Linked DNA regions of Homo sapiens: regions 2 and 3 are each linked to region 1. Evidence: fine-mapped expression QTL. A gene starts in region 1. Each other region holds a variant in brackets. All regions are shown on one strand. Distances are between the middles of the regions.

Evidence for each region. PIP is the estimated chance that this variant, and not a neighbour inherited with it, causes the effect. A credible set is the group of variants that fine-mapping cannot tell apart.
Region 2: its variant is the best candidate, but not a certain one, in a credible set for the expression of CA13 in whole blood (TOPMed, PIP 0.61).
Region 3: its variant is the best candidate, but not a certain one, in a credible set for the expression of CA13 in whole blood (INTERVAL, PIP 0.72).

Annotation. Positions count from the first base shown.
Region 1 is chr8:85,243,360-85,247,607 of GRCh38, forward strand. CA13 (carbonic anhydrase 13) reads left to right here and starts at 2,099. Exons shown (of 7, transcript NM_198584.3): 1 at 2,099-2,506. The coding sequence starts at 2,470. LOC105375936 (a long non-coding RNA gene) reads right to left here and starts at 126. Exons shown (of 3, transcript XR_929126.3): 1 at 1-126. RefSeq lists a silencer at 2,354-2,433 and an enhancer at 2,794-2,903.
Region 2 is chr8:85,566,527-85,570,774 of GRCh38, forward strand. No RefSeq gene overlaps it. Among named protein-coding and RNA genes, the nearest start is that of CA3-AS1, 100 kb to the left of the region's middle. The variant G/T (reference allele first, on the strand shown) is at 2,161.
Region 3 is chr8:85,279,762-85,284,009 of GRCh38, forward strand. It overlaps CA13 (carbonic anhydrase 13), which reads left to right. Exons shown (of 7, transcript NM_198584.3): 7 at 1,469-4,248. The coding sequence ends at 1,588. Among named protein-coding and RNA genes, the nearest start is that of CA13, 36 kb to the left of the region's middle. The variant A/C (reference allele first, on the strand shown) is at 2,371.

The sequences.
Region 1 (4,248 bases):
CTCATGGAGATCTTCATTCTTTTTATAAATGGACAATAGTCCATTGAATGGCAGCTGGGCGCAGTGGCTCACATCTGTAATCCCAGCACTTTGGGAGGCCGAGGCGGGTGGATCACCTGAGGTCAGAAGTTGGAGACCAGCCTGGCCAACATGGTGAAACCCCATCTCTACTAAAAATACAAAAATTAGCCACTAGTAATGCATGCTTGTAATCCCAGCTACTCTGGAGGCTGAGGCAGGAGAATTGCTTGAACCTGGGAGGTGGAGGTTGCAGTGAGCCGAGATCGCACCATTGCACTCCAGCGTGGGCAACAAGAGCGAAATTCCATCTGAAAAAAATATATATATATATAAGTCCATTGAATGATGGATGCTCTACAGATGACCTAACTAGTTTCCTATGAAAGGTAATTTGATTGTTGCCAATACTTAGGTTGCTGTTTTAGAAAATTATATAGACTGCGCTATGAATTTAAACAAGAAGGAACTTGAAACCACTACTGCAAAATTATAATTGAAACAGTGAAAGAGATTGGACCTAACCAACTCTATCTTATTTCTAACTTCTAAGCTGTCCTTACTCATTCTTAGGCATAGGCTGAACTAACTTTGAGGAGGAACATAGTTTATAGTTTAGAACAAAGACAATAACAGCCCTTTCCCAAAACAAACCTTCTTTCCTGGGGACTGGACCGCCTTTGCAGGACTAACAAATTAGCCAAAAGATTAGAAATTATGGTTTAGGAGTCATACAGCTGGAGGCTGTATGATTCTGACCCTCCCCAAATTGCTCCTGGGAATAACATCACTATTGTAAAGCCTAAGACCAGTGCTTCAGATATGTTGCAGACCCTGCACTGGATGGATCAGCAGGCACCACTCAGCTCGATAAACTGGCTCATCTGATCCCATGGCCCCCACCCAGGAACTGACTTAATGCAAGACAGCTTTGACTCCCTATGATTTCACCTCTGACCCAAACAACCAGGTCTCCCGACTTACTGGCTCTCCTCCACCCACCAAATTGTCCTTAAAAACTTTGATCCCCAATGCTTGCGGAGACTGATTTGTGTAATAATAAAACTCCAGTCCTCTGCACAGCCGGCTCTACGTGAATTTCCCTTTATGAATTGCAATTCCCCTGTCTTGATAAATCAGCTGTGTCTTGACAGTGGGCAAGGTAAACCCATTGGGTGGTTACAAACTGTGTACCCAAGCAATAAAAGTAACAATTTGGGAAGTATTTGAGACCCACCAACCAAAATTTCTTTAACAATTTTGGTCTATTCAGTCATTCATCCATTCATGTAACCACTATTATTGGGTGTCAAGAACTGATACTTACTTAGAACGTTAAGAGCATTATTCATCTTGACATACCAAATCATCCGAGTTACTGAAAATTGGTTTACTAGGTTCCTTACAAAGAGGTTGCTTGGATTTATAAAATATGAGGCAGTTGACCCGAGACAAGGACGTAGAAAGTGGTTCATGTACCCAATTTTTATTTTTCACTTTGAACCCAGAACATTCACGACTCCAGGCCAGAAATTCAAGACTCTGCAGCTAGTTCTGACTCCAGTCCTAGGGTAACAAGCCCACCAAGAATCCAGGGCAGATGTCCTGAAAACCCTTCTTGCGGGGTCAGGAGGGCAGCAGAATTTTGGGACCAAATCTCAACAACTGGTTTTGGTTTCCTCACTCACCAAGCCACAAGCCTGCAGAGTGAGAAGAGGTAAGGAAAGGATGAATGGGCAATGGAGCCAGCCCAGGACCGGGAGCTGGTCCTCTCTAACAGCGACCCCGCCCGCTTTAGCTGAGCGACCCGGGGCAGGTTACATAGTGTCTCTAACTTAAGCCACGTGTTTCTCGAGGAAATGCTGAGAGGATCTAATGGGAAAACGTGGGTACACGTCTTAGCTAAGACCCTCGCCCACGATAAGCCCTTAATAAGTAGTTATTTTTCAGTGGTGGTGATTACCATCGTCATTATTGTTTTGTATTTGTAATCATCACTGCCACGACCATCACCGACCTCTTTTACGCCTCCACCGGGATCCCCACCTCCCAGCCTGGCAGTTCCAGGCTCTGGTGACTCATTCACTTCCTGGAAGTCCTCTAGGCAACACTTTCCTCTCCCGAGTGACGACTCCTCAGAAGGCAGGAGATCCCCCCCGGAAACCTTTCTCTCTCCGTCTCTCCCTCTAACTCAAATCTCTCATTCCCGAGTCCAAACTAAGAGAGACTCGCGCCCCAGGAGTCAGCCAGCGGCGCGGGCGCCTTCCCCGCACGCCTCTGCCGTCTGGAGGACGCAGGCGGGAGCGCCCCGGACCGGGTTCACGGTCTCGCACTCCTGCCGCCGGCGCCCCGCGGTCCCGCCCTAGCAGGCTCCTTCCCGGGCCCCTCCCCGCTCCCTCCTCTTTCTCGCTGCTCAGTCACATCTTTCTCTTCCTTCCACCCCGAGGGACCATGTCGAGGCTCAGCTGGGGATACCGCGAGCACAACGGTGAGCGCCTTTTCCTGATCCAAGGGGGGGTTTGTGCGGGGGACGAGAGGACTAGCGCGACGCCCCGGCGCTCGCTGACCACACACTGGGCTCGCACATTGAGAAACTTTTTCGGTTCCTCTTTAAACTAAGCAGCACTCCTGGGAGCCCAGTGCGAGAAGCGGAGAGCAGTCTTGTCAGGGTAGACGGGTTGTTGGTGGTGGATGTGAGCGTTGGTGTGTGTTATCTCTGTCAGGATTCCCCAAACTCCCAAGTGTTCATACGTGTGAGTTCACCTTCATCTGAAAAGCCAAGGACTTTGCCTAGTAACAGCCACGTATCAATTACAGGCTTGGAGATCAGAAGTCTGATGACACACTTCAGTGAAATAAGGACAAGTTCGCTTTCAGTCTTTTAAGCTCACTATTCACTTAGGAGAAACAAATCATAGAAAATCTTTAAAAATATATTTAGGAAATCTTAACTTGCATTGTGACACTGAAGATTAAGTTGGCTTCGTGGCAAACAAAATACTGCATGTTTCCTAATAGTTGTTACTGTAAATATTCCCACAGCAATTTGCAGTTGGCTGACTACTACTGGGGACTTTAGTAAGGGTTCAGGTTCTCGCTGGGAAATTAAGTTACATTGTGGGTTACTTCTCCACTCTTCTTCTCCACGCTCATCCTTGCAGGGTGAGCAAAGGATTACTGAAATTATAATTCATTGATAGAAATGTATTAATAGGATAAATAATAATGACATACACTTTTCTTCTTGTATATCACACATTATCAAAAGTAAAACATTTTTTCTTGTTCCTACGTTAAACTGAACTGATTGTTTAAATAATAATTATTTGAAATAATCGCAGTGACACCAAAAAGCCTTATAGTGAATAACTGTCAAAATTAAGGCTTAGTTTAGCCATTCCTCAATGTGCATATATTTCAAAACATCATGTTGTACACATAAATATATACAATTTTTGTCAATTTAAGAAGTAAATACATAATAAAGAAAAAAATTAAGGCTGTGAATAATAATGCTTTCCTTCTATTAGCATGTACATGATTAAACAGTATAGAATGGTCAAATTTTATAGAAAGTTTAATTTCACAAACTAACAGAAAAATTCTATTTCTAATTGTAGCCTGTTTAATTTCTAATTGTAGCCTGTTTTTAAACATGCTAGTTTAAAAATGGCAGCAGGTGAAATTTATAACTTTAATAATAAAAGGTGTATAGTCAGATTTCTTCTTGATTAAGGCCATAATTATAATCTTACATTTTGCTAATTTCCAGTGAATGTTTAGGGGGAAAATATGACAAATCTTTTTTCATTTCCCTCTCTGCTGAAGTCGTTTTTATTGGAGTTATTTAATAGTCATTGAATCCCAACTGCGCCTTTATGGTAGTTAGGAAGAAGAAGGGTATTTCAATCAATCAATCAATGGATATTGATTACTCTTTAGTAGGTTAGAAATTATTCACCTGAATGAAGCTTATTTCAGCAATTTTAAAAATTCATCTTAGCAAAGCCATTAATAAGGAGTGATTTTGTATTTCTGTTAGGAATTGTTCTGTTAGGAATTAGCCATTCCTTTCTTTTAGATGCGATCTCTCTCTGAAGACCACATCCTTACTTAAAGGTGTGGTCTTCAGAGAAAGATTGGGAAAATCCTATTGGAAATGTATTATATACTAACTAGGCAAGTTTTTTGTTTGTTTGTTTGTTGTTTTTGAGATGAGTCTTGCTCTGT
Region 2 (4,248 bases), 320 kb after region 1:
ATATATATGTGTATACATATATACACACATATATATATCTCCAATTAGATGTATATATATACACATATATCTCCAATTAGAAATAATTGCTATGTGTATCTGTAATTGGATATGTGTATATATATATAAAATATATATTAGAGATACACATGAAGTACATTCTGTCTTTGCCACTCTAACAAATATAGAAAGTAAGCATATATATATATATACACACACACAAAATTAATTTTCCCAGATCTCACCACCTATGATACAAATGGAGTCATTTTAATAGATATCATTCAAACTCTACTAGCTTTTAAAAGCTTGCCCTGATCAAAAATAAGCTTAGCTTCCTCAATAGGTGTTTAGGGAGACCTGAGCATAGTTGGGGATTGAGCTTAAAGAGAGGTATATTATCATCTTAAACTGAAAATAAACCCTTTTTTTTGAAGACCAAAATCTCCTTACTGAGTCAAGTCCCTTGTATCTGAATCCTTTGGTAAGATTGGAGTCTCTCTCGGAAGTTTCTTCAGCCCTCTTGCAAAAAGATTTTAGCTGGCCCAGGCAGGCAAGTTCCCCAGACACATTCACGTGCTCTTGAACCCTGGCTACAGGTCAAGTGAGGACTCTTGCCACATATGAAATCCTTTATACTAAGAACTTTTTACAAAGTTCCCATTGTATTATCTCTTTCAAATATCAAAGCAGAAGTGTTTACTAAGTATAATTGTTCTAAATTTGGGGATGAGAAAACTGAACTGCAATGAGGTTAAGTAACTTGCCAAGGTTGTACCTCTAGTAAGTGGCAGTCCTAAGATCAGAACCCAAAATTTTAGAATCAAATCCAGGGATTTGATTCTAAACCCTATATCCCATTATATATATGTAAAATGATAGATAGTTTGAATGACAGATATAAAAGCTAGTAGAGTTTGAATATCTATTAAGATAACTTCATTTGCATCATAGGTGGTGAGATCTGGGAAAACTAGTTGTGTATATATATATGTATGTTTACTCTCTATATTTGTTAGGGTGGCAAAGGCAGGATGTATTTAATATGTATTTCTAATATATATTTTATATATATATGCATATCCAATTAGAGATACACATAGCAATTATTTCTAATTGGAGATATATATGTATGTGTGTGTATACATATATATACACACACACACATCTAATTGGATGTACATATACCATATATATATATACACACACACATATATACACACACACAAACACACACACATATATATATATATACACACACATATATATATATACACTTGGGATATAGGGTTAGGTAACACCTCCTATCTGTTATCTAATTTCATTGGCCAACTTTATAATGGCAGAGGAACCACCTGTGAGAAGAACCAGAACATGGTCTATGATAGGAATTCAAATATATATATGTGCCCAATTAATTAGAAGAGGGAAAAATGACAGAAAGCAAATTATAAGAAGGAATTGTGGGCCCCTTGAAAGAATTTACTCAAAGTGGGGAGACTCGGAGAAGGGTCTGCATCTGGAACTGGTGTAGGGCTGGAACCGGAACCCACCCTGATACCAGACAAACTGGAAGTTTCCTAATACCATAGGGAGGAAGATTTGTATTTAAATGTAGTGGGCTCTTGCAGCTTGGGTCACACACAAGTTTGCTGATCCAGAGGAGGAAGGGGCTTCCTCCTAATTTCCCAAAGGAGAAAGTTTCTGAGTAGACCACCTAAGCGGCCGTTTGCAGTGAGCAGCAGCACACAACAGAACAATAGTTCTGAGGATGCTGCAAGGGAATAACTGGCATCTGCTGAAGTAGAACTTCACAAGCCCTGGTCTAGGGTACACCAGGGAGATGATGGGTCCAGATCCATCCAGAAGCTGGCAGAGACAGTCCCTGGGGACGCTCAGAAGAAAGAGAGAGGGAGAGGGACCCTCAGAATTTGTCAAAGTAGTGAGTGTCATTGAGCTAAAGGGGAGTCTAAATAACACACTGATCTCATTTGAGTCCACAGGTTAATGAGGTCAGGAAAAATTTGGAAGACACTTATTAAGCCACCATGAGTGACCTAAGAAGCACAGATCAAGCAAAAATCTACGGATGTTGTTATATTTCTGGATTTAGGAATAACAGTTTATTGTTTGTGTCTGGTTAGTGATTCTGAGGGTGAG[G/T]TTAGAAATACACATGGTTTGCTAAATATGAATTTTGTTTATTCCAATTCTTACCATAACTGACAGGCTATAACTGCATGTATGAATTCCTTCTTTGTTTACTTTTTCCCATGGCCAAGGGGGGCCGGAGGACTGGTCTAATAATAAAATAATGCTTATTCTCCAGATGGTGTAGTAAGGTCAGAAATACATATTGGTGCAATTTTATTTTCAGAAAAAGCCTGTCTATAAATCTAAAGTGTCTTTTTTTAAGCATTTCAGATGGCATTTGAGATGTCTTGATATCTATTAAAGGTTTAGGTATTGAGGACTTTAAGACTTTTCTTCCATTAGTTAATGTTAATTGAGACTCAAAGGACCCTTGGACCCAGGGCTCCAAAGTCTACATTTGTGTGAGATGGTTGTTTTCCAGACTGTAGACTCCACTGTGGAGATTTTCTGTGTACTACTCTGAGCTCTAGGCCCAGAGAGTTCGAGCATTTCTTTGAGGAAAAAAAAAGAAGAATCTCTTCTTCCTGTTTCTGCCGTTTTGAACAGACACATGACACTGGCAGCAGCTGGCTTCCAAGAGGGATTATTTTCACTGAAGTTGGTGCTATGAATTATTTCTTTCCTTGTTATCTGAGGGAGAAATAAAAGTTGTACTCCAGGTATTTTGTGTTCTGTGAATCTTTCTTCCCAATGTAAAACCTAATTATTTGGCTTCTAACTGAACCCACTTCCCTTAAAGAAAGGGAAAATTCAAGTTCAGAGCTAAATAAATCTCCTCTCTGTCCCATTTAATTACAGAAATGAAGAATGAATAACCTGGAAAAAAACCATATAATGTATATATGCAGCTTTTTTTTTTTATTTCAGAAAAGGATTTTATTAAATTTTCATAATGTCCTAAGTTAAGAAAATCTTTTATTAAAAATTCTGATGATTTGCTTTTGCAGCCAAAGTTGTGGGAAGGAAAAAAGATTACAGACTTAAATTTTTAAAAATCAATATGTTGCCATTTATGAGAACAATATTTCAGGAGGGAAACCGGAGAATGCTCACTAGTCAAGAGTTGGGGACCACTCAACCCTGTTTCTTAATATTACAGAATTACAGTCTGCCTTTAAACCCCAGTATTCTCAGGTCCAACCCTTCCTCTGACAATCAATATTGTTGCAGAAATTGCTTTATGGGAATAACTTCATGATTCATAGGAGAGGGTGAGCCTTGTGCTCACAAGTAAATAAACTTTTTTGTTTTACAAGTAAATAAGTTTTTGTTTTGTTTTGCTTTGTTTTTTTGAGACAGAGTCTTGCTTTGTAACACGAAGGCTGGAGTGCAGTGGCAGCGATCTCAGATCACTGCAACCTCCGCCTCCCAGGTTCAAGCGATTCTCCTGCCTCAGCCTCCTGAGTAGCTGGGATTACTGGTGCCTGCTGCCACATCATGCTAATTTTTGTAATTTTAGTAGAGATGGGGGTTTCACAATGTTGACCAGGCTGGTCTCGAACTTCTGACCACAGGTGATCTGCCCACCTCGGCCTCCCAAAGTGCTGGGATTACAGACGTGAGCCACCGTGACTGGCCGTAAATAAGCTTTTAAAGTAAAAAATAATAACATGCATTTGAAAATATGGTGAGTAGCAAGGGTTGGTTTAAAAGAACAAAGGTGAATATGACATTGAAGTTCTGTAATGAGGTCCTGATGGTTTTACAAAAGTGTAAAAATTTAGCCTGGGGACGGTGCCTTGAGCCTGTAATCCCAGCATTTTGGGAGGCCCAGGTGGGAGGATTGTTTGAGCCTAGGAGTTTGAGACTAGCCTGGGAAACATGTGAAACCCCATCTCTACAAAAGTATAGAAAAATTAGCCGGTTTGGTGGTACACATCTCCAGGCTCCACTACTCTGGAGGCTGAGGTGGGAGGATCACCTGAGCCCAAAAGTCGAGAGACTGCAGTGAGCTTAACTGAGCTCATTAAGCTCAATTAAGTGAGCTTAATTGATCGCACCACTGCCCTCCAGCCTGGGCAACAGAGTTGAGGCAGTCTCATAAAAAAAAAAACAAAATAAAAAATTTAGGGATATTTTTGTTGGTTAAAAGTTTGT
Region 3 (4,248 bases), 36 kb after region 1:
ATGACCACTCCAGACAGACCTGGATTGTTATGATCTGCAGAAGGCTAGGTATCTTTCCTATGGTCTCAGAGGTTAGATTTTATTAGTCTCTGCTATTTGACTTGACCAGAGATTCTCTTCAGCCTCATGTGGTTTTAGCTATAATGATCTGGTCTAATGAAACATGAGTAATAGTACGTTGTAAACATTTGTCTCCTTCCCATATCTGTACTTAAAAAAAAAACAAAAACCTCAAAATGGCCGGGTGCAGTGGCTCCCGCCTGTAATTCCAGCACTTTAGGAGGCTGAGGAGGGCGGATCATGAGGTCAAGAGATCAAGACCATCCTGGCCAACATGGTGAAACCCCATCTCTACTAAAAATACAAAAATTAGCTGGGTGCGGTGGCACGTGCCTGTAGTCCCAGCTACTTAGGAGGCTGAGGCAGGAGAATTGCTTGAACCTGGGAGGTGGAGGTTGCAGTGAGCCGAGATTCTGCCATTGCACTCTAGCCTGGTGACACAGCAAGACTCTGTCTCAAAAAACAAACAAATAAAACCCTCAAAATATCACATGTGGAAAACATGGTTGCTTGTATGTATGATGGTTGATCCTATTGCCATAGAGCATGGTTATAAACTGTTGCCTATTTCTTATAAAGGACCTCTCTCTCCTCTGCCCCCGTCCTGGTTAGTACTGTACAAGAAACATTTTAGGCATCAGGTATTTGATGAAAACCTAAAGGATGTGAATTTGGTTGACTCTGAGATTAGATGGTTAACAAAATTTAGAGAATGTAGGTTCTCATTCCTAATAATTTGTCTTCATCAAAGTAAAACAAAATAAACACCAAAGATTTTCTTTTATTAATTGACAGTATAATTTTGGTGCATATTTTTGAGAAGATAAAATTAGTTTTAATTTTTCCAACTTCACTTTAGACCTGTACTAAATCTTAATAAGTGATATTAAACCACCAAGGGATTGTTAAAAATTTATAAAACATATTTATAATAGAAAAGTTTTCAGCAACAAAAAATAGTGATGTAGGTTGATATGTATTGGCATGCAAAGATGGCTAGGATATATACTAAGTGAAAAAATTAGGTTTCAAAACAGCATATATAGTTGAGTTCATTTTTGTCATAAAATGTATGTATGTATGTGTGTTTATAGATTGAAAAACATTGAAAAACATTCTCTGATTTCTAAATATTTACTCTTTAAACCACACTCTAGATGTTTCCTCTTGTTGGCCAGGCTGGTCTCAAATTAAAAATGCTTATACATTTAATTTTGGAACCTGTAGGTATTTGTACAGTGATGAGAATTTAGCAAAAGAGTTGCTTTATTATATATGACATGTAACAGAAAATTTTCATTGCAGTATTTTTTGTTCCTGGTTATAGATATATCTTCTTTATGCAGGGTAATTCATTAATATTGGTGGGAATTTCTATGCTGAAGCTAACTCTTTTCTTCTTCTACAGCTGGCCAAATTTCGCAGTCTCCTGTGCACAGCGGAGGGTGAAGCAGCAGCTTTTCTGGTGAGCAATCACCGCCCACCACAGCCTCTAAAGGGCCGCAAAGTGAGAGCCTCTTTCCATTAAAAATTGTCACCAATGAACTCCCCCAAACATGGCTGTGGAGAGACAACAAAACAAAACAAAGCACAAAAGTCTCTGCCAACAACTCTTTTGTGGAATTCTAATTTATAGGAAACATTTTAGTATGAGCTTCAGTGTCACAAAGAAAACCAGATCTCTCTCTCTTTTTTTTTTATTTTTTTTAGTGATAGAGTCTCACTCTGTCACCCAGGCTGGAGGGCAGTGGTACAGTCTTGGCTAATTGCAGCCTCCAACTCCTGGACTCAAGTGATCCTCCCACCTCAGCCTCCAGAGTAAGTAGGACCACAGGCATGCACAAGCATGCCTGGCTAATTTTTAAATTTTTTTTTTTTAAGAAATAGGGTCTTGCTATGTTGCCCAGGCTGGTCTCAAGCTCCTGCCCTAAAGTAGGCCTCCTGCCTTTGCCTCTCAAAGTGCTGGGATTTCAGGCATGGGTCATCAAGCCCAGCTGACCCAGAGCTCTTTACTAACTTATCTGTCTCTTATTTGCACTCATGGATATTCACAGTAAGCATTGTTTGACATATATTAAAACCCATGAAATATGTCTACTTCAACCTGTGTGAAAATATAGTTAACATTGCAAACTTTAGAATGTATTAAAAATTTTACCTTGCCATAGAGACTGAATTAGTCACAGCTCTCAGTGATGTTAGATGGAAACTTATATCTCAAATGATAGGATTGTGATGCTTTTTTTGTAACAAGTGATTCTGCTTAATATTTTGTTATTCCAGTTCATAAAAAGTAGATTACGTTTTCCT[A/C]TAAGGATAATTTTTGCAGTGATTATATTGCTAACTCTCATTGCATGATACCTTTAATAAAATGAACAATATAAGAGTTAAGGGCAATGGGATAAAGCTACTTAATGTGTCTCCTCCACTGATCAAAAATATTCCATATAGTCTTGGTGAGGAATTCCCCAGGATATAAATGGCTATTTACACTGTAATGAATTATACCATATATGATATTCACTCAGTAATGTTAATAATGAACTGGCTAATAATTGACAAGATGCAGTGCCTGCCAGTTTATGACATTAACTTGGTTTGAAACTAACATATGACATAGTACCAGTGCAGTCAGAGCTGCCCTTAGGCATGATGAACATGTGGCCCGTTTTTGCCTGGTGTTTTGGCAGCAAAGCAGGAAGCAATTTTGTGTGGGTCATTGTTCTGTCAATTTGTGGAAAAAATTACTTCAGTCTCATATAAATATAGAATGGGTCCATAAACCCTTCAACTCATTTCCATGGCAAAACTCACTTTTCTTTTTATACATGTCCTTCAGTCTCTTAATTTTGTCAGGTGGAGCTTGATCTTAATTTTAACCTATTATCTTTTATTTTTGTTTGTTTTTGGTGAAGGATAAGAGTGGTGTTTCTTTTGCCCTTTCTGGTACAAACAGAGGGACACTAAGCATTAACTTAATAATCACATTTAAGACTTGAACACATGCTACCCTTTTGTCATCTTCTGACATAAGTTTACCTGAGTTTCCTTGATTTGGAAGATTTGTTTCTTTTATCTCTCTTCCTCTGGATGTAGTTTTTTTTTGTTTTTTTTTTGTTTTTGGACGGAGTCTTAGTCTGTCACTGAGGCTGGAGTACAGTGGCACGATCTTGGCTCACTGCAACCTCCATCTCCCGGGTTCAAATGATTCTCCTGCCTCAGCCTCTTGAGTGGCTGGGATTACAGGCACATGCCACCACACCCGGCTAATTTTTGTATTTTTAGTAGAGATGGGTTTTGCAATGTTGGCCAGGCTGGTCTCAAACTCCTGACCTCAAGTGATCTGCCTGCCTCGGCCTCTCAAATTGCTGGAATTACAGTTGTGAGCCACCACACCTGGCTTGAATGTAGATTTTAATAATTGAATTTATTCTGCCGTGTTGATAGAATAACTGAATATCAGTAAATTGTGTAACAGTGGTGGATACTGTTGCATAAGATGAGCTCCTGAAGAGTGAAGCTAATTCTTTGGTCAATGTTCTTTTCCCCTCAGTGTCTAGTTTAAGGCTTTTAGAAGATTGATCTGTAGCAATTATTTAATGAATTGAATATTTAAAAAATTTTTTATTTGCTGTCTTTGGTAATTATCTCTCTGCTTGAAATTAAATGCACTATAAGTTAATATAACAAGTAAAATACATTGTCTTTTGAAAATAGTTTCTTTTTAAAGGAATACTAATTAATTGTAACTTGTAAAACCAAAAGTTCTAATGGTTTTTAAAAACCAGTGTTGAGTGGAAAAGTGTTTCTTTAGTTTGGAAAGACCTGTGAAGTATCCTAGTCAGGGAAAGAACCTGTTTTCTGGAAGAATGTAAGTTGCTATATGTGGAGGGGCATGTAGGACAGGGGTTCTAATTACTGTCTGTGAGAGTTACTACTTTGTAACTTATGGTTTCTGCTTCAGTATTGTGTTGGTTCTGTATTATAAATTGCACCTTAATAGACCAAAAATATCTATACAGCACTGATTTCCTTGAATATTGTGTGTTAATTGATATATCTTCTAGAGGCAAAAGGTTTAAATGTGTTAAAATGGTTATATTGCCTCCTTTTTAAACAAATTAAAGAGTTGTAAATACTAGTGTAGATCTCTTTTGTTTACCACAGCAAATACTGATTTTATGATTG